Linked DNA regions of Homo sapiens: regions 1, 2 and 4 are each linked to region 3. Evidence: fine-mapped expression QTL. A gene starts in region 3. Each other region holds a variant in brackets. All regions are shown on one strand. Distances are between the middles of the regions.

Region 1 (5,145 bases), 39 kb before region 3:
CCACTGCCCGAGTTTGCCAAAGAGCCGCCGCAGAGAGACAGGTACCGGCTGGACGATGGCCGCCGCGTCCGGGACCTGGACCGAGTGCTCATGGGCTACCAGACCTACCCGCAGGCCCTCACCCTCGTCTTCGATGACGTGCAAGGTCATGACCTCATGGGCAGTGTCACCCTGGACCACTTTGGGGAGGTGCCAGGTGGCCCGGCTAGAGCCAGCCAGGGCCGTGAAGTCCAGTGGCAGGTGTTTGTCCCCAGTGCTGAGAGCAGAGAGAAGCTCATCTCGCTGTTGGCTCGCCAGTGGGAGGCCCTGTGTGGCCGTGAGCTGCCTGTCGAGCTCACCGGCTAGCCCAGGCCACAGCCAGCCTGTCGTGTCCAGCCTGACGCCTACTGGGGCAGGGCAGCAGGCTTTTGTGTTCTCTAAAAATGTTTTATCCTCCCTTTGGTACCTTAATTTGACTGTCCTCGCAGAGAATGTGAACATGTGTGTGTGTTGTGTTAATTCTTTCTCATGTTGGGAGTGAGAATGCCGGGCCCCTCAGGGCTGTCGGTGTGCTGTCAGCCTCCCACAGGTGGTACAGCCGTGCACACCAGTGTCGTGTCTGCTGTTGTGGGACCGTTGTTAACACGTGACACTGTGGGTCTGACTTTCTCTTCTACACGTCCTTTCCTGAAGTGTCGAGTCCAGTCCTTTGTTGCTGTTGCTGTTGCTGTTGCTGTTGCTGTTGCTGTTGGCATCTTGCTGCTAATCCTGAGGCTGGTAGCAGAATGCACATTGGAAGCTCCCACCCCATATTGTTCTTCAAAGTGGAGGTCTCCCCTGATCCAGACAAGTGGGAGAGCCCGTGGGGGCAGGGGACCTGGAGCTGCCAGCACCAAGCGTGATTCCTGCTGCCTGTATTCTCTATTCCAATAAAGCAGAGTTTGACACCGTCTGCATCTTCTAAACCAAGGGTCACTGGGATCCCAGCAGGGCTTCCGTCCAGGGCGTGGTCACATGGGGGAGGGAGGGTGCCCTGGAGACAGGAGGGTGAGGGGTTGGGGGAAAGGAAGGAGCAGCCCTCCAGGAGCCAGATGCTTCTTGGAACATGGGAGGCATGACAGGGCCATGGCCTCTCTGGACAGTGCCATGCTGGGCTGTGGCTAAACCATGAGCGCAGGGCAAACAAGAAACTCCTCAGGGCACCCCTGACACACCAGCCGCTGCCCCTCTGCCTGGGTGCGGGGCATGCCACCCTCTTCAGGCTGTCCTGCAGGTCTTATGTGTCAGTCACCCCTGGGCCCAACCCCACCTGTTTCACAACCCCTGTTGAGAGTGGGGGAGGGGCGAGGAGGACAGAGAGATCCCAGAGTCTGAGGTGGCTGGTGGGGGCCGGGGCATCTCACCAAGGTGGCCCTTGAATGGCAGCAGGGGAGGTCTGTGGGGAGGTGGACCCAGGTGGTGGACAGTGGAGGGAGGGGCACATACCCATCTGTGTCTGTCTTCATGTCCCTGAAACATGAGGCTCATGGGCCCCTCCCTGAGGGTTGCTTCAGGGAGCCTGCTGAGGTAGGACCTGGGATTTTGGTAGCCAACCCCATGCCACACTCTTCCCCAACCCCATTCCTGCTGCCAGAGCAGGGCCTATGAGCCCCACATAACTCATCCTGGCCCAGCCAGGAGCCTCAGTCCCCAGGACCTTGGGGCAGCCAGGCCAGGCAGGGCTGTGGAGAGGTGGGTGGCGTGGCCAGCCTGGGTCCCAGGCCTGCTTCTGTTCCCCCGTTTCCCTTGGTGCCAGCAGAGTGGGGGTCCTGCCTGGAGGACCCTTCACCCCCAGGAAGACTGTGGGTGTGGGGAATGTGGGGAGGGTTTCCCCTTGCAACCCCCATCCCAGCCAGATCTCAGGCCTGCCTGAAGGCCCCTCCAAACTGATGGGAGTGGAGGTGTGCTGGGGAGGAGAAACTTTCCCCAACCTGGCCTTTACCAAAGCATTTACAGATGGCCACCGGGCTCTGGCCCACTCCTGTCTCCCCAACTGTTACGCCGTCTGCAGTTGGGGGTAGTGACAACTGGAGGCAAGGCCCACCACGTGCAGCCCTGGCACGCAGAGGCCCTCAGCCTGGGCCCACTGCACCTCTTGGGGGTGCTGGCTGTGCAGGCAGTGGTGGCTTCAGACAGTAGCCCTGGGATTGGATATGAAAACTGATTACCTCAGACAAGCTACCCAGCCCCTCTGAGCCTCAGTTTCCCCACCAGTAACAGAGGGATCATAAAAGTAGCCACCTCCATTCATTTATTCCTTCTGCACACGTGTATTGAGCATCCACTGTGCGAATCAGCCAGACAGCGCCCCTACTCTTCCACAGCCAATGTTCCAGGGGAGACAAATGAAACAAGCCAATGTCAGCTGGTGGCTGGTGCTGCCAGGTGAACCAGGTGCAGGGCCACCTGCAGGCTGAGACCAGGGAGGCGCTCTGAAGTGGTGGCCCTTGACCTGAGACCACCTGTGAGAAGGAGCCAGAGTGTGACAATCTAGGGTAGCAGCACATGCCGGGAGAGCTCACTGAAGGAGCAGAGAGGCCTGCGCGGCTGGAGCAGACCTGTCTGGGGAGAGTTCAGAGAGACCAGCCAGCTGGAGAGGGGTTTGGAGGTGCTGCAGCAAGCTGGCTGAGCATGGGCTGCTGAGTGGAGGGCAGATAGGGAGGCAGGGAGGGTGGATGGGGGTTGGCGGGCAGGACCAGCGGCTCAGGAGTGGCTGGGGCTAGTGAGGGGATGTGGGTCTGGTGGGCTAGCAGGGTGCCTGTAGCGAGTCAGAGCCCCATGAGCGCCCTGGAGTTGGAAAGGTGGAGGCAGGAACAGACAGACCCATTCAGGGGCTGCCCTGCCTTCCGCCGACCAGCACCCCAGGAGCCTCTGAATGAAACACACTGGGCTCGCAGGCGGGGGACTCGTTCACGTGTGCCTTTGGATTTGCTTCAGAACCTCTGATAGAGCCCAGGTCCCGGGGCTCATGGTGGCCTGGACTTCCAGGTTGTGATGCCAGGAGGGTCCCAGCCGGGAAGCCCCGAGCAGGGCTCAGGCCGCCCATGGGGGGTCAGTGGCCAGCACCTTCCCTTCCGCCTGCAGGCTGCTGATA[T/C]GCAGGAGGAAATCCTGGCGGGTTCCTGTGGGGGTGAGCTGGCGGGGCCTCCGGGCTGCTTTTAAGGCCACTGCCCGCCCCGTCCCGCCTGCCTGTGCTGTGCCTGCCTCCTAGAGCTCATTCCCTACGCCCCGACTCTGTCCTGGACAGCGTGCCCACCAGCCATGGCGGGGCCCCGGGGCCTCCTCCCACTCTGCCTCCTGGCCTTCTGCCTGGCAGGCTTCAGCTTCGTCAGGGGGCAGGTAAGTGTGAGCCAGTCGCAGGGGCACACGGCGTCTGGGCCCTGCCGGCCAGCGGTGGGAACAGGGAGGGACTGACATGGAGGGGCAGGGGCCTGGGGAGAAACCGCAGCTGGCGCCTGTCTGGCCTCTTAGCAGGCCTGGGGGCTGGCTATTGTGCCCACCTCCCCAGTCTGAGGTCTGCGTCCAGCCACCCAGGGTTCAGGGGTGTGTCAGCCCACCCTCCTCTGACTATGCGGGGCCGGGGCTCCCCAGCGTGCAGCTGAAGTGTACAGAGGCAGGCCTGTCCTGCCCTTCTGGCCCAGACGGAGGCCCAGGTCTTATGTGGCCCTCACCTGGGGGTTGAAGATGTGATCACCTCCAACCCCCGAGGACTACAGATTCACGTGGGGCAAGTGTGTGCACATGTGTGTGCCTGTGTCCAGCCCCAAGAGTACCGGGAAGCAGAATGAGTCACTCACCCTTAGTGTCCGGGGTTATGAGCAGCTGGCAAGGACACACTTCAGCCTCAGAGCTGCCACAGAGCAGCCACAGCCCCGGGCAGGTCCCCTTGAATCCTCACAGCCTCGGGGCAACTCCTCCTGTCCTCCTCGTGAGGAACCCGAAGCCCTAGGATGATGGGGACAGGCCATTCCCACTCTAAAGCCATGCTCCAAACCCCTGCCTGTGATGGCCATCCGTGTGTGCTGGCGAGCAGACAGGGTCCTGGTATGCAGCCACAGCCAGCCCCTCGGTCAGGTCCCTGTGACAGGCTCCTGGCTGCAGGTCTGCTCAGGCCCCATGGTAGGGGCCTCTGGGAGCTTCTGGAAGAGCCTCCCACCCTGGTGATGGGGGTAGTCTCTCTCCTGTGAGGCTGAGCGTGTCTGCCTCCTGGAGCAGCAACCACTATCCCCATGGCACAGATGGCCAGACTAAAGTCCAGAGCGGGGAGGACTTGCCCAGGATCCCACAGGCAGTCCAGCCAGGGGCCTAGGCCCCCTGCCACCATCAGGCGCTTTCTCTTGGATGCCTGTGGTCCCTCAGAGAGGCAGCAGGGAGAAGGGCCTCACCAGCTTCAGGACCAGGCCAGGGCTGGGGACAGGAAGATATGAGGCTGAGAAGGCGACAGTGATGGGGGAAGAGCCAAGGGTTCCAGGGCTGTGCTGAGAGCCCTGCAGGTAAGCTCCTGCCCTCCCCTTAACTCAGTTTCCCCCTGTGTACCATGCAAGGGAATTTCAAAGGCCTCCGCCACCTCCTCATGCTCTGGGCAGTGAGGACAGAGGTCAGTGAGGGGCCTCAGATTCGAGTTTTTTCCTTGTCAGAGACCTATGGCTCTGACCACTCCTTGTGGATGGGGCTGCAGCAGTGCTGGCCACTCTAACACAGCTACGTGGCCTCTATCCCAGCACCCTGCATAGCCGAGAGCCACTGTAAGTGCAGTTGGCCCTCTGTATCTGTGCACCCTGTACTTGGGTTCAACCAACCCTGGATTGAAAATATTCAGGAAATAAAATGGCATCTCTACTGAACATGTTCAGACTTTTTTTCTTTTGAGGTGGAGTCTCGCTCTGTAGCCCAGGCTGGAGGGCAGTGGCGTGATCTCGGCTCAGTGAAATCTCCACCTCCCAGGTTCAAGCGATTCTCCTGCCTCAGCCTCCCGAGAACTGGGATTACAGGCGCCCGCCACCACACCCAGCTAATTTTTGAATTTTTAGTTTCACCATGTTGACCAGGCTGGTCTGTAACTCCTGACCTCAGGTAATCCACCTGCCTCAGCCTCCCAAAGTGCTGGGATTACAGGTGTGAGCCACCGTG
Region 2 (5,145 bases), 160 kb after region 3:
AAGTGGTTGTCGTTTTGTGTCTCATACGCTGTTGTGTATGATCCCATTCTAATATTGTGAGGGTAAGTGCAGGGAATTTTGACTCCATTCTGGATCTACTGAATTTAATTCTCTGGGATTTGAAAGTAGCACGTATGTTTGCATTAGGCATTTCGCATTAGACTTAACGTTAGGTTTGGTAGCCAATAACACAAGAAAAGGATATAACTCCATAGTGCGTTAACCCAGAACTAATCATTTGGGTTAACAGATTTGTGATGTGTTTCTTTGTAGAGTTAAAGAAAGCAAGTAAACGCATGACCTGCCATAAGCGGTATAAAATCCAAAAAAAGGTAAGTGTAGTGCTTGAGAGAGCTGTACCAAACACATTGCTAAACTGATTTTGCCCTGTTCCTTTGCGGGAAAGTCTGGGTTAATGTGATTTGGTTTTGGGAAATGGCATTGGATAGACTGACCATGGGCACAAGCTCTTAGGCATCAGGAGTGCAGCTGTGAGAAAGTGCAGTGATTTGGTGATAAGTCTCTAAATTTGTTCAGCATGTTAATCTCTGCATAGAGAGCCTTCTAGTTACAATTTCTTGCTGTTTTATACTTACATATGCATTACTTTGTAAGATTCCAATTAAAGCTCCATTTTCCTAGGACATTTTATAGGCATAACTAAATTGCAGCCAGATTGGTTTCTCACTTGAATTCTGCTTAAGTATAAAGATATTTTTGTAAGCAGACAAAATCTCTTTATTTTAATAGGTTCGAGAACATCATCGAAAATTAAGAAAGGAGGCTAAAAAGCGGGGTCACAAGAAGCCTAGGAAAGACCCAGGAGTTCCAAACAGTGCTCCCTTTAAGGAGGCTCTTCTTAGGGAAGCTGAGCTAAGGAAACAGAGGGTAAGTTATGTTAGCCAGAATTTTCATTGAGTGGTGTAGTGTGTTATGTGTGATATTTTTCAGAGTAAGGTAACAACACTAGTCACTGGTTCACCTATTTCCCTTATGGCTCTGACAGCTTGAAGAACTAAAACAGCAGCAGAAACTTGACAGGCAGAAGGAACTAGAAAAGAAAAGAAAACTTGAAACTAATCCTGATATTAAGCCATCAAATGTGGAACCTATGGAAAAGGTATGATTAGGTCTCTTTATGAATGAGAGATCAGGGGTTTTGATTTTGGTTTTTTTGCTTGGGCCTGAGTGCAGTGGCACAATCACAACTCACTGCAACCTGGACCACCCAGGCTCAAGCAGTCTTACCACCTCAGTCTCCAAGTAGCTGGGACTACAGAAGCACACCATCACGCCTGGCTAATTTTTTTTAGCAGACACGGGCTTTCACTATATTGCCAAGGCTGGTCTCAAGTGATCCACCCAACTCAGCCTCCCGAAGTTTCTGGTATTACAGGTGTGGGCTGTTGTGCCTGGCTGAGAGATGAGTTCTGATGCAGAAATAAAAGCACATCCACAGGCTGCTGAGCTTCTTGGGAGGAAGACAACTGAGTTCAGACTCCATCTTACCTATTTAACAACTGCAAGGGCTGCTACTCAGCTGTGGAAAATGGAGTTAGAGGTTACAGTTGCTCTACTTCTAATTTTGTGTTATTTCCCCCTTTATCCTCTAGGAGTTTGGGCTTTGCAAAACTGAGAACAAAGCCAAGTCGGGCAAACAGAATTCAAAGAAGCTGTACTGCCAAGAACTTAAAAAGGTATCTTAGCCTAGGTCAGTGTCTGACAGTAGTAATGAGGTTTAAAAGACTCAAGTCATTTTTTTTTTAACCTTTTAAGATGAAGGGTGCATGTGCAGGTTTGTTATATGGGTAAACTTGCGTCATAGGGGTTTGCTGTACAGATTATTTCATCACCCAGGTATTAAGCCTAGTACGACATTAGTTATCTTTCCTGATCCTCTCCCTCCTCCCACCTTTTCACCAACAAATCATTTCGTGACTCGACTCTAGCTTATGCTGTTTAATGCCTTTCCTGCTATGTTTACCTGACGGAAATAGTTTCTTTGGTTCTAAATATTTGCACAAAACTGGTTCTGCCTGTAAGCATGATT[T/C]ACAACATTAAAAAAAAACGTTGACATAGTGTTGAGATTGAGAAAGGTACATTGGAGTAAGCAGTGTCAGGCTAAAGGTCTCTAAAGTACTCTGTTGAAACCTAAGTGAAGGAGGACAACTTGGTGTAGTTGCTCTCCAGCACTCCCATCCCCAACATCCATTTTCCCAAGCTCACTCCCCCATGGATAGAACCTGACTGCCCCTCAGCAGCTTTTGGCAAGGCCAGAAGGACCTATCAAACTATATAATTCACTATGGGAGGATTCAGACAGGGATATTTGCATTTTTGAAATCCATCTTGATCAGAGACTGCTGAGCAAGCCTATGTTTTACTTTCCTGTGTGAGAAATGATGAGGGTCAACATTCTTCATACCAAAGTGAAGACATGAGATCCAACTCTGAGCTCACCCTGTTGCTAAATGGATAATGCCAGTACTCTCTTGTGGAAGGTATTACCAGAACAAGGGATGTAGTTCTGATCATTTTCTCCTTGATAATGTAGTTCTGGTCATTTTTTCCTTGATAGGTGATTGAAGCCTCCGATGTTGTCCTAGAGGTGTTGGATGCCAGAGATCCTCTTGGTTGCAGATGTCCTCAGGTAGAAGAGGCCATTGTCCAGAGTGGACAGAAAAAGCTGGTACTTATATTAAATAAATCAGGTGAGTAAAGAGGGTACCCTTTGTCTTCTGTGTACATGGGTGAGGTACGAGGAAACAGTCTGATAGTCACTGAAGACTGATTAGATCCAACTCTGATCTCAGCAAAGCCAGAGTACGTGCACTTTGCCAGAGACAGTGCTAGGCAGTGGGGAGCCAGGTGACTTTTACAACTGACTCAACTGGTTTCTACTATTCTTTTGCCATTCAGTATTTACCATCTTTTAAATAAAGAGTGTAAGCTGCTATACCCAGCTTATTGTGTAGTATATTTCATCTAGGAAGTGATGACAGTGTGACAAATTCCCCACACCTACACAATGTCGGGTATTAGTTCAAGAGTGAAATAAATTGGAACGTATGTGACAAAATATTTAAATGAAATGCATAATTATGCATCTGAGTTTGAGCAGCAGGAAAAAGAAAACCCAGAACAGAGAATTACAAAGCAGAAAATGGGAATGAGATCTAAAATTGTTGTTGGGGTTAAGAAACAATTGGCTGCTTGGGAGGCTGAAGTGGGCACATCACTTGAGGCCAGGAGTTCGAGAAAAGCCTGGCCAACACGGCGAAACCCCATCTCTACTAAAATACAAATATTAGCCGGGCATGATGATGGGCACTTGTAGTCCCAGCTACTCGGAAGGCTGAGGCAGGAGAATTGCTTGAACCCGGGAGGCGGAGGTTGCAGTGAGCCGATACTGTGCCACTGCACTCCAGCCTGGGCAACAACACTTCGTCTCAAAAATGAAGAAACAATTGGCTGCTAGCTAAAGGTAAATTCTGGAAACATAGCTCTAGGGTTAGTAGGGTTGTAATCCAGACGTTGAGTCTGTCCTGAAGTTTTCAAGTGAGCAATACAAGGGGAATTGAAATAGAGAAGTGCAGATGCTGAGCTCTGTTAAGATACGGGCAGTATGGTAGGGGAGCTTACCCTGCCCTGATTTTCTAGTTAAATCCTTTTGAAAGGACTGGGAAAATGTAAACCAGAGTAAAATCTATAGTTGCCAGATTTTGCAAATGCATCTCAACAAAATAGCCACATTGGAGCAAATGTCTTTTTCTTTTTTTCTTTTTGAGATGGAGGCTTGCTGTGTCACCCAGGCTGGAGTGCAGTGGCGCCATCTCAGCTCACTGCAAGCTCCACCTCCCGGGTTCACGCCGTTCTCCTGCCTCAGCCTCCCGAGTAGCTGGGACTACAGGTGCCCACCACCACGCCCAGCTAATTTTTTTGTATTTTTAGTAGAGACGGGGTTTTATCGTGTTAGCCAGGATGGTCTTGATCTCCTGAACTCGTGATCCGCCTGTCTCGGCCTCCCAAAGTGCTGGGATTACAGGCGTGAGCCACCGTGCCTGGCCGCAAATGTCTTATTTCTAATTGCTATCAGATCTGGTACCAAAGGAGAATTTGGAGAGCTGGCTAAATTATTTGAAGAAAGAATTGCCAACAGTGGTGTTCAGAGCCTCAACAAAACCAAAGGATAAAGGGAAGATAACCAAGGTATCCTTTATTAGTGGTAAGAAATGTGATTCTTTCAGATTTTGGTTGAAATATGATGAGTGTACAAAATCTTGATTTAAGTGAATGAAAAATTACAAGATCCAACTCTGATTTCAGCCAGAGATCATCTGAAAGGCAATGTAGTTATCTTAAGAGCTGGGCTCTGGAGCCTGATTGCTTGGGGTTTGTTGAAATTTATCAGGTAAGTTGCCAGAATAATTCAACTATTTGGAATTTTAGCGTGTGAAGGCAAAGAAGAATGCTGCTCCATTCAGAAGTGAAGTCTGCTTTGGGAAAGAGGGCCTTTGGAAACTTCTTGGAGGTTTTCAGGAAACTTGCAGCAAAGCCATTCGGGTTGGAGTAATTGGTGAGTTTCAGTTCATTACTTTTTACTTTTTAAGTGTTGAAATAGTTAAGAAGTTTAGCCAGCTCTCCAAGTGCCCAAGCAGCAGTGTATGGAGTTGTTGTCAAGTAAAAGGCTCACTCAAATACTAGCTTCTTGCTTATACCTTACTGAAAGCACATAACCACACACAATTTAAAGAAAAAAACTTACACAACTGCTGCCAGATTCAGGTTTTTTGTTGGGACTGATTACTGTAGGAAGCTGGTTTCTAAAAGTTCTTGGTTTGTTTGAATTTATAGTATTTTCCTGCCTTTGCATTACTTGTGCAAGAAATGAAGAAACTAAAATTGGTCTTAGTATTGAAGTGAAGACACTGAGATCCAACTCTGATCTTGCCCTAAACATCAGGGAAATGGAAAATTAGGCAGTGAAAATTTCATAAGTGCCAACATATAATGCTTTTTATATCTGGATTTCCCATTTATTTGTAGGTTTCCCAAATGTGGGGAAAAGCAGCATTATCAATAGCTTAAAACAAGAACAGATGTGTAATGTTGGTGTATCCATGGGGCTTACAAGGTAAATGGAGG
Region 3 (5,145 bases):
AACGCTCTAGGGAGCTGCTTCTGAGCCACCCCTCAAGGCCCAGGGTTCTGGTGTGTCACTAGGACCCTGGGCCTTGCCCTTCCCATGGCCCTGAGTTCCCGGATACCAACTGTGACTGTGACTCTTGGTGCAGAAGACCTGGGAGGGTCTGCTCGGCAGTGCAGCCCCTTGCTGGCACAGAGTCCTGGTTAGGTCCAGGCCTTCACCTCTGCCCCTAAGGATGTTCCCAGGGGCCCAGGGGCAGACAGTCCTCCCAGGAACAAAGCAGGATGTGGAAACAGCCACAGGGCCTGGTGGCCTGGCCTGATTTCTAGACTAGAAGAACCTTGGCTCTGGGGCGACAGAAGCCTGTTCCCTTCCATAGGTGGTGTGGGTGGGGGGTGGGGGTGGGGCAGCTGAGGGTGTGTCCCACTCAGCATGTCCAGCAATTGCCCTCCTTTCTCCTCAGCCCTAGCTCCCACACCTGCCCATGGTGCCAGGTCCCAGGGCCAACTGCTCCCTAGCAGCCGTGACACTTGTGGATGCCTTAGAGGCTTGTCTTGTTCAATCCTCACTCCCATCCTGTGAGGCAGTCCCACTTATTCCCCCATCGTCCGGAGGAAGAAACTGGGGCTCAGGGAGGTGAAGTCACTTGCTCCAAACCACCCAGTAACAGGCACCGGGGTTGAGATCACCATTCAAGTCACCCCACCTGCATTAATCACTCTGCCTCTCAGCCTAGCCTCCCAATGTCACCACACTGAGGCCAGGTGGGTGGGGGCTGGGGGACTGAGGGACCTGTTGCACTGCTCTCAGCCCGTGGGCATTAGCCCAAAGCGGACCTCGGCGCCCAGAGGTGTGAAGCTGGCTCCTGCTGGTGCTCACCATGGGATCTTGGTGGGAATGACTTTGCTCCTTGTATGACAAGAGGAGCTTAGAGGGCTGTGAGGCTCCAAAGATGCAGGCAGGCCCAGGAGGACAATGTCCAGTAGATCCCCGTAGTCCTCCCTGAAACCTCCAAGGCAGGCTTCTCAGGATACTCTGAGGGTCTTCTCCGGGCCCAGAGCAAAGACTTCTTAAATAACGCTGGGCCGCCCCTCCACAGACACAAACTCAACCTGGGACCTCGAGGGTGGACAGATGCCCAAGGCTTCAAAATGACCATTCCTCAGGGGCCTTTACCATCCTGCCTTTACTGGTCAAGAAGTGATTCTCCGCCACCCCACAAAGCCGGAGTGAAAACCCCTGTCTAGCCAGTTAGAATCTTCCAGACAGGGCTACTTTGTTTTATCAGACAACAAAAGCCACGTCACCCCTGGGGGTTCCTCCGGAAGCTCTCCTGCCCTGCTTGGCCTGGTTCCAGTCATCACCCAACCCTGGGACAGAGAGGCCCCAGGACTGCGTTTCATGCTTGAGAGAGGGTGAGACTTGCTGGGGGACCACCCAACTGGTCAGTGATAGGGTCACGACCCAAACCATATCTGTCTGCTGCAGAAGCAGGGCCCCACTAGACCCACGGAGACAAGCAGGCAGATGTCCAGCACTCTCAGCTCTGGGGCCTCACTAGTGCGCCCCAGCCGGCCCCCTCCAAGAAGGGGCCTCAGCCTCCTCACGCCATTTCTCAGAGGGAGAGAGCAGGGACAGGGAGGTTAAGTGCCCTTTGCAGCCCTAGTCTGGGCTCCAGGGGGCGGGGGTGACTTGGCTTCTCCCAGCCTTCGCTGCCCGGGCTGAGAGGGGGCCGGACCTCCAGGGCGACATCGAGGTGTGTCTGGGAAGTCCAACCGGTGTCCCCTTTGGTCCGGCCGTCCCTAGGAGCCCGTTCCGCCCGGCGCCGCTCGCTGGCTTTGTCCACAGCACTCTCCCGCCCCAACTAAGGGTTGGCCGAGAACAAGGGGTTGGGGGCGTTTCCACCGCGGCTTCACGGCAGGCGGGACCCCGAAGGAAGTCGGCGGGGGCCCAGCACTCCGGCAGCCGCTCGAGGAGCCCCGAGCTCCTGCAGACCGAGCCGGGGAACAAACCTCCCGCCCGCCCCCGGGCGTCGGGGCGCCCCAGAGGCCCCCGGGATGAACGGCCGGAGCTTCTCGCGAAAAGCCGCCCGGCCCTTGCGCTCCGGGGCCCTGGCGAGCCCCACTGGGTGTTTCCCCGGAGGAGCGGCACCCTGGGGCTCGGTCCGTCCATCAGTCCACGCGGAAGACACCCCGGCGCACGTCCCGCCCCGGCTCACCCACCGTGCACCAGTCTCCGCATGTCCTGGTAGCGAGCCCATAGGTGCGCGCTGAGGTCGGCGCCGCTGGTGGGTGCCTGGGCGGGCGCGGAGCGCGGGACGCCGGGGCAGTGGGCGCCGGGACCCGGGGGGCCGCACCCAGGGCAGGAGGGCGAGGACGAGGCGGCTCGCGGCCCGCCGTGGCCTCCGCACAGCAGCCAGCGCCGAGCGGCCGCCCGCAGCCCCGCACCCGCCATGCCCACCGCGCGCCGCCCGCCGCCCGCGCTGCCCTCGGCCAGCCCGCCGCCCGCCGCCCGCCGCCCTCCGACTGCGCGCCCGCCACGGTGGCCTCGTGCTCCTCACGGCGGCCGGCCAATGGGTGCGGCGCGCGGAGCCCGGCCTGCCAATGGGCGCGCCCCTCGGCCCGGGGGGCGGGAGGCCCCGGACCCGGCGGGGCGGGGCGGGGCGGGGAGGGCTCCCCAGCCCCCTCCCCCAGCCAGTCTCCGGCGCGGTCCGGGAGGACTCTGCGCCCCCCTTCGGCCGTCACGCCGGCGATGGCGGCGCCTTTCCCTGGCCCCAGCCCTGGAAGTCAGCGGGCCTAAGAGCGGCCGTCCCTGAGAGGCTCCGGACGGCCGAGGCGCCGAGAGGAGACAGCCGGAGCGCGACGGGTACCCCCCGGGCCCCCGGGTCCTCTGCCGCCCTCTCCGCTCCCGGGTCCGCCCGCCCTACCCTGCGCCTCTGGATGCTTCTGACCCCAGATCCTCCGCTCCTCCCCCTAGTCCTGGTGCTCTCCTTTCCCGGGGTCCTGGTCCCCGGTCTCTGGGCTCGGACTGACTGCCCACTGACCAGAGCCCGGGCCAGTCCACTCACTGGTCTAACAAATAAAGAGCCCTTCCCGCGCTTCCCGGTGCCAGGCCCACGCTGGGGGAGGCCGAGGGGCCTGCAGGGCAGCCGACGTCCGCTAACCAGGTGACTGGGCCGTGCGCTGCAGGGTTGTGGGCCACGGTCACTGCGCCCGCTTGGTTCGGACCTCGGCAACTGGCCGCACTGACCCGTCAACTCCCGGTTTCCCGGCGCACGCCCCTCGTGAGATGCTGTGGTCTTTTCTAGCAACGTCGACAGGCTTTCCAACAAAATTCCTCTTTCCTGCGCAGAACCGCTCTCCACTCGCATTTCTTCTGCTCAGATCCGTATTCCGAGCCCGCACGCATACCAGGCTGTGCTCAGGGTCCGGAGGAGGCCGACCCAGTAGCCGTGGGCCCTGTCGGAGGGGAGCCAGCTGGGCGCGCGTTGTTTTCTGAGGTGGCCGCGCTGTCTTTCAGGGTGTGTGTACATTCGAAACTCCACTGAACCTTGATTGAAGACCTACAGTGTGGCAGTCCATGGCCTGGGGACTGGTAAGGATTGAGGCCGTAGGATGGGCTCGAGTGTGGCGGTGTCCCCAGGGCCCCAGTGAGCAAGTGGGTGTGCTGGGAACCTGGCCACAAGTGAACCTCCTCCAGGCGAGGGGATGCCCTGCAGCATCCAGCCGTCAAAACCTCCTGTAGAAACGGGAGCGAGCATCAAGCCTGTGTGTGTGCATGCTTGGGCGGAGTCTACCCGGAGGAGAAAGAGGCTTCCGGGCTGGCCCTCCAAAGCCGGTTGTACAGGCGGCAGCTCAGGCTGCTCACTGCGGGCCCTATGACCCTTTCTGGGGCCCTGCTTGCTCTCTCCAGTCTGCTTTTGTATATTTTGTGTCCATATCACCAAATCGTCTCATTGGTTCTAAGCTTTCATTTACCTTCCTTAGATTGTCTAATAGTTGTCTCCTTTCTCAAAGCTGTTCCTGCAGTTTTTACTTTAGTCCTAGGTAATGGGGTGACAGCCCCTTTCAGTTATCTTCAGCAAGCACAGCAGCATGAGAAGACGCAATTACAAGTGAAGTCTCTTAAGTCAGAGCCCTGCTTCTACCTGGCATAGTCTCTTAAACTGTCAGTTAAGAGACTACATATAAACAATACACGTTCAGACTCGGCGCGGTGGCTCACGCCTGTAATCACAGCACTTTGGGAGGCCAAGGCAGGAGGATCTCTTGAGCCCAGGAGTTTGAGACTAGCCTGGCCAATATAGTGGGACCCCCATCTCTACAAAAAATTAAAAAATTAGCCGGGCGTGGTGGTGCACGCCTGTAGTGGTGGGAGGATGGCTTGAGCCGGGGAGGAGGGGGTTGCAGTGAGCCGAGATTGCGCCACTGCACTTCAGCCTGGATGACAGAGCGAGGTCCTGTCTCAAGAAACAAACAAAAACCATGTTTGGGAATACATGTGAAGAGCGAGGGCTCTGCCAATCATTATCATCATAATGAATATTCTAACTAATATTAATCAGTTACTATGCTCCAGGGTTGTGTTCAGTGCATCATTCCTATTACCGCACTAAATTATCACAGCGTCAGAACAAGGCCTCCGTTTTACGGCTTAGGGAATTGAGGCACAGATGGGCTAAGGGAGCACCTGTAGAGCAGGGATGTGGTTTGGTAACAGAGTGCATGCTCTTTATACTGCTCTTCTGCGATTATTGTGAATAAAGCGCCTACAAGTGCCTGTGGAACTGTAAGTGCCCCATACAAGATAGCTTTTATTAATTTTAGGGTTCTCACGGGGCGCTTACTTAGATTTTTGCTGTGATAATTGATAAAGTTCAGCTTTCAACACTCCATATCAAATTCTGTTACTTTAGAAGTCTAGGCACCAATCACGTCTCCGAAATAAACGCAAGGCATTGCATAATTGCATTTTGGAATGTGGTGCTGTACATAGTCCATCAGAGAGGGTCATCACTTCTATCTGGGTATTAGGAATAAAAATGGCGGTGGCAGAGTAGGGGGCGCGGCTGCCAACTGCGAGCTCAGACCTGCACTGGGGAGGCAGGGGGCGGGGCCGGGCCGGCGCCACGTGGGCTGTCCTTCCCTTTTGGGCCGTCCC
Region 4 (5,145 bases), 270 kb after region 3:
CTCCTCCCAGCAAGAGGTACTGGGAGTCCATCCAACTCTGCCAAAGGGCTTTCACAATCACCATGTGCTTTTCGTCTTCACCATGTGCCTTTCATCCCCATTTGAAAGTGGAAGTTGTTTGTTTGTTTGTTCATGTGGTGGTTCATTCATTGTTTGCTGAGTACCACCATGGGCTGGCAGATAGGGTCCTTGGGCACATGAGTGGGGCCGGCTGTCCCGGCCTCCTCCGCTCCAGCCTGTCTGCACACTGGCACCCTGAGGACACCCTCCCACGGTGCTGTCTGTCTGTGTCCCAGTGACCAACATCAATGACGGGCTGCTGAGGGGCATCAGTATGCTGAACAAGGCCCGAGAGGAGCACAGAATCCCAGAGAGGAGCACCTCCATTGTCATCATGCTGACTGATGGGGATGCCAATGTTGGTGAGGAGCACGGGCATGGTTTTGAGCTAGGGCTGGAGTGCTTGGCTGCTGCTCCTGGCTCTGTAGCTGGCTCATTGGAAAACCTGGGGCAGCTCTTCCCTGGGTTCCCTGTGGTCTGGGAGCCCCTCAAGGGCAGGGTCCTGCCTCCCTCTGCCAGGGCTCTCCACCACCTGCCCCACAAGGGCTCATGGTCGTGACTCCAGCAACTCTGCATGTGCAGGAGTCCGGTCTCCCCAGACAGAGCTGGTCTAGACCATCCCCAGGGCTGGGGCTGGACTGTGAACACCCCCTTCTCCAACAGGTGAGAGCAGACCCGAAAAAATCCAAGAGAATGTGCGGAATGCCATCGGGGGCAAGTTCCCCTTGTATAACCTGGGCTTTGGCAACAATCTGAATTATAACTTCCTGGAGAACATGGCCCTGGAGAACCATGGGTTTGCCCGGCGCATTTATGAGGACTCTGATGCCGATTTGCAGTTGCAGGTATGCCTTGTCTTGCACACTTCCGGGCATAAGGAGCTCACTACTTCCTCAGACAGCTGCTCCATAAGGTGACAGTTCTAGTTATTAGGAAGAGCTTCGTCTTGGGTCAAAATCCACCTCTGACTATCTCTTACCCATCAGTAAAGATTCTGATTTTGTCCTTGGGCTACACAACAGGCCCGTTTCTTCAACAGGATTATCAGAGCAAACACAGGACATCTGGTTCAATATGAATTTCTGATAAATAATGAATTTTTGTAGTGTAAGTATGCCCCAAATATTGCACAGGACATTGTATTAGTGTATGGCGGCTGCCATACCAAAGTACCAAGTGGCTTCAATGAGAGAAACGTATTGTCTCCCAGTTCCAGAGCCCGGACATCCCAGATCCATGTGGCGGTGGGTTGGTTCCTTCTGAGGGCTATGAGGGCAGATCTTTCTAGGCCTCTTTCCTTTTCTCCATGGCTTATCAATGGCTGTCTTCTCCCTGTGTCTGCACATGTCTTCCCTCTGGATGTCTGTGTCCAACTCCCCTTTTAATAAGGACATCAATCATATTGGATTAGGGCCCATACTCATGACCTTATTTTGTAGACCCTATCACCAAATAAGGTTGAACTTTAGGAGTACGCTATTCAACCCATAACAGACATACCTACACTAAAAAATTATTCATTGTTTATTTGACCTTCAATGTAGCTGCACGTCCTGTCTTTGCATTTGCTGAATCTAGCAATTTTGTTCCTTCTCTAGGCAGGTAATGGCATCTCCACCTCTGCAGGGCGACCACCCCATTCCCTCCCTCCTCTGTCTCCAGATCTCTGCACTCCTGTCCACATCACTTTATCATCTGCCTCTCTTACTTCCTTTTCTCCTTCTTGCTTTCATTCCAACAGACATTCCTTAAATACTTTCTTTGTGCTAAGAACTCTGTCCTTTCATATTTCTTTTTTTTTTTAATAGGAAATACTTCTGAAACTGTCCTTTCTAGTCTTCCTCGTGTCTATCTGGGAGCAGGGAGTTGCCGGGGGGAGGCCCCCACAGACTGAAGGACGCAGTCAGGGACAGGCAGAGTGAACATTAGGAGCCATTAGGACGGGCCCAGCCCTGGGGCATGGATGCCCAGCTGCAGCATCAGTGGGAGCCTGACCTGGGGCTTGAGATGACTGGCCCC[G/A]TGCGAACTTCAGGGCTTCTATGAGGAGGTGGCCAACCCACTGCTGACGGGTGTGGAGATGGAGTACCCCGAGAACGCTATCCTGGACCTCACCCAGAACACTTACCAGCACTTCTACGATGGCTCTGAGATCGTGGTGGCCGGGCGCCTGGTGGACGAGGACATGAACAGCTTTAAGGCAGATGTGAAGGGCCATGGGGTGAGTGGGGACAGGGCCTGGAAGTGTGCTGGGGATGGGGTATCAGCAGTGGTAGGGCTCTGGCCTCATGAGGGTCCAGGAGTGGTGGCCCCTGAACCTGATCCACCCAAGCCTCCAGCCCCTTGCCTCCTTCTACCCCCACCCTAGGCCACCAACGACCTGACCTTCACAGAGGAGGTGGACATGAAGGAGATGGAGAAGGCCCTGCAGGAGCGGGACTACATCTTCGGGAATTACATTGAGCGGCTCTGGGCCTACCTCACCATTGAGCAGCTGCTGGAGAAGCGGTGAGCAGAGTCCCAGCCCCCACCTGTGCCTACCCCTGGCTGGGCTCCAATGCAAGGGCACCCCCATACGCAGTCCCAGCGGTCCTGCCCTCTTCTTGGGCCAGCCCAGGAAGTGTCTGTAGAGCAGTCTGTAAGGAACCCCAGGCCGCCACTCCCCATCCTGTCAGCCCCAAGGCTCAAGCTGGCAAGTCCCCTGGCCAGCAGCCTGGGAGTGCCCCGGGGTAGGGGGGACTTCAGCACCCTGCTGCCCACACTGGGCATGGCCCAGGGGTGGTGAGGCTGAGTGGAACTGAAGGCCGGGATCCCAGCCCTCAGTGCCCAGAGGGCAGAGCTGAGCCCACTGAGAGGGTCAGTGTTGGTGTGGGTGGGATTAGACTGTGAAGCCGTTAGTACACAATCTAGCACATGCTGAGTGCTCTGCACATGGACACCATTGCGAGTGGCTGTTGTAGCCCCTTATTTTATTTATTTATTTATTTATTTATTTATTTATTTATTTATTTTATTTTATTATTATTATTTTTTTTTTTGAGACGGAGTCTCGCTCTGTCGCCCAGGCTGGAGTGCAGTGGCGGGATCTCGGCTCACTGCAAGCTCCGCCTCCCGGGTTCACGCCATTCTCCTGCCTCAGCCTCCCAAGTAGCTGGAATTACAGGCATGCACCACCATGCCTGGCTAATTTTTGTATTTTTAGTAGAGATGGGGTTTCACCATGTTGGCCAGGCTGATCTCGAACTCCTGACCTCAGGTGATTCACCCGCCTTGGCCTCCCAAAGTGCTGGGATTACAGGCGTGAGCCACCATGCCCGGCCGGTCCTTACGTTTTATAGGTGGGGAAACCAAGGTCCAGCAAGGAAACAGGGCTTGTTCACATGCCCCAGGGAGTTGTGAGCCAGTCTTCTCTGAGCCCAACTGGGCTGTACCCTGGGGGACCCCACAATGGGGAAGGTGGAGTGGGGATCCCCAGCTGTGTCCACTGCTCCAGTGCAGGGGAAGTGGGCAGGGTGCTGCTCTCCAGGCTGTCCTCCTGACTGGCCCCTCCTCACAGCAAGAACGCCCATGGCGAGGAGAAGGAGAACCTCACGGCCCGGGCCCTGGACCTGTCCCTCAAGTATCACTTTGTGACTCCACTGACCTCAATGGTGGTGACCAAGCCTGAGGACAACGAGGATGAGAGGGCCATTGCCGACAAGCCTGGGGAAGGTGGGGATAGGGATGGAGGCCGGAACCCGGAGGCCTCCTGTGCTGGGCACCCTACCTGGGTGTCCAGTGGAGGAGTGGGCCAGGCTGGGGAGACCCAGACCTGCTGAAGTAGGGCATCTGAAGGAAAACTGGCCACGGGATGGGGAAAGTGGGGTGGAGCGTGAAGCAGTCAGCATGGACAGTGGGGTGTGGGGTGAATAGGAGCCTCTGCACCTCTAAAGGGAAGTGAGTAAAGGGGGCACACTGCCCATGGGGCATTTCAAGGAAAAGGACTGAGGCTGCAGCATGGAAGGGCTTAGTTAGACAAGAAGAAGCACTTCCAACATGAAAGGCCTGGAGCAGGCTATCAGGCACCTGGAGATTGTTAGGGGAAGAGTCCCTGAGAGCTGGAGGCTGGGACCCCCTCAACCAGACCCCAGATTGCCCTACTCAACAGGGGGTCCCAAATGCCCACTGCAACTAGGTACAGGGTCTGTGTGTGGTGGTGGAGGATTGGCATTGGGAGACATGGGAGGCAAAGAGCTGGGCCTGGCCAGGCCAGGCCTCTGGCTTCCAAGAACTCCTAGTTCCAGGGGACACCCAGTGGGGGAAGAGCTGGCTGCTGGGAGGCCCACAGCCTAGGGCTGGTCGGCCAAGCAGCCAGCTCTGGTCCCTGCTCACAAGTGCCCTATGGCTTCTAATGCATTTCTCTTCTTCCTCCCTTGCTGCACCTGCAGATGCAGAAGGTAAGCCTTTAGCCAGCCACCGGGTTGGGCATTATGGAAGGGAGACAAGAGAGAACTGAGGAGGCCTTTCCAAGCAAGATAGGACCCCCAGCCATGGGGGCACACTTGGGACACCTGGGCTCAGGCCCAGCCCTATTGCCAAATCATGAACGTGCCCCTCTCTGAGCCTGAGGATCCCTGTGAGTTAATTGGGGGTGGCTTCCCTTGCCCAGGGAGACACAATCAGTATGACAGTATCTATGACCTGCAAAAATGAGCAATTTAGCATGTCAGTCATTTATACTTCATTAGTCCCATAGCAACCCTCCAAGAGGGCCCTTTTATGATCCCCATTTTACAATGGGGAAATTGAGGCACGGGGGGTTAATTTGCTCAGTCTGTTTGCTCACAGACTCAGCAGATGGCCAAGCTGGTACTTAGGCCAAGGCAGTCTGGCCCCAATGCCCATGCTGGGAATTGCTGGGGATCACAGTCCTCTGTGCCTCTCTCACCACAAAACTGGAACCTCACAAACTCCCTGCCACTAGGCAGGGCCTCCCCAGCCCCTACTGGCCTGCCCCACCTCCATTTGGACTGGCACATTTGGACTGGGCCATCACATTCCCCTCAGAACAGCCCTGATAAATGTACCGGTGCATGTGAGTACATATAT

The links. PIP is the estimated chance that this variant, and not a neighbour inherited with it, causes the effect.
Region 1: its variant is fine-mapped to the expression of NT5DC2 in whole blood (TOPMed, PIP above 0.99). The same link has a PIP of 0.9 or more in blood mononuclear cells and monocytes.
Region 2: its variant is fine-mapped to the expression of NT5DC2 in skeletal muscle (GTEx, PIP above 0.99).
Region 4: its variant is fine-mapped to the expression of NT5DC2 in whole blood (INTERVAL, PIP 0.98).

What each region holds. Positions count from the first base shown.
Region 1 is chr3:52,492,138-52,497,282 of GRCh38, forward strand. It overlaps NISCH (nischarin), which reads left to right. Exons shown (of 21, transcript NM_007184.4): 21 at 1-931. The coding sequence ends at 345. STAB1 (stabilin 1) reads left to right here and starts at 3,201. Exons shown (of 69, transcript NM_015136.3): 1 at 3,201-3,354. The coding sequence starts at 3,277. The variant T/C (reference allele first, on the strand shown) is at 3,113.
Region 2 is chr3:52,686,496-52,691,640 of GRCh38, forward strand. It overlaps GNL3 (G protein nucleolar 3), which reads left to right. Exons shown (of 15, transcript NM_014366.5): 2 at 274-332; 3 at 751-888; 4 at 1,007-1,120; 5 at 1,614-1,697; 6 at 2,579-2,711; 7 at 4,097-4,209; 8 at 4,450-4,576; 9 at 5,047-5,134. SNORD136 (small nucleolar RNA, C/D box 136) reads left to right here and starts at 2,392; the gene lies at 2,392-2,538. SNORD19 (small nucleolar RNA, C/D box 19) reads left to right here and starts at 2,745; the gene lies at 2,745-2,820. SNORD19B (small nucleolar RNA, C/D box 19B) reads left to right here and starts at 4,243; the gene lies at 4,243-4,335. It also overlaps SNORD19C. The variant T/C (reference allele first, on the strand shown) is at 2,051.
Region 3 is chr3:52,531,299-52,536,443 of GRCh38, forward strand. It overlaps NT5DC2 (5'-nucleotidase domain containing 2), which reads right to left and starts at 2,559. Exons shown (of 14, transcript NM_001134231.2): 1 at 2,208-2,559. The coding sequence starts at 2,439. RefSeq lists an enhancer at 1,669-1,798 and silencers at 1,929-2,018, 2,049-2,398, 2,459-2,958, 4,993-5,145.
Region 4 is chr3:52,800,242-52,805,386 of GRCh38, forward strand. ITIH3 (inter-alpha-trypsin inhibitor heavy chain 3) reads left to right here. Exons shown (of 22, transcript NM_002217.4): 10 at 297-422; 11 at 724-905; 12 at 2,093-2,278; 13 at 2,426-2,565; 14 at 3,614-3,768; 15 at 4,485-4,493. Among named protein-coding and RNA genes, the nearest start is that of ITIH3, 8.0 kb to the left of the region's middle. The variant G/A (reference allele first, on the strand shown) is at 2,080.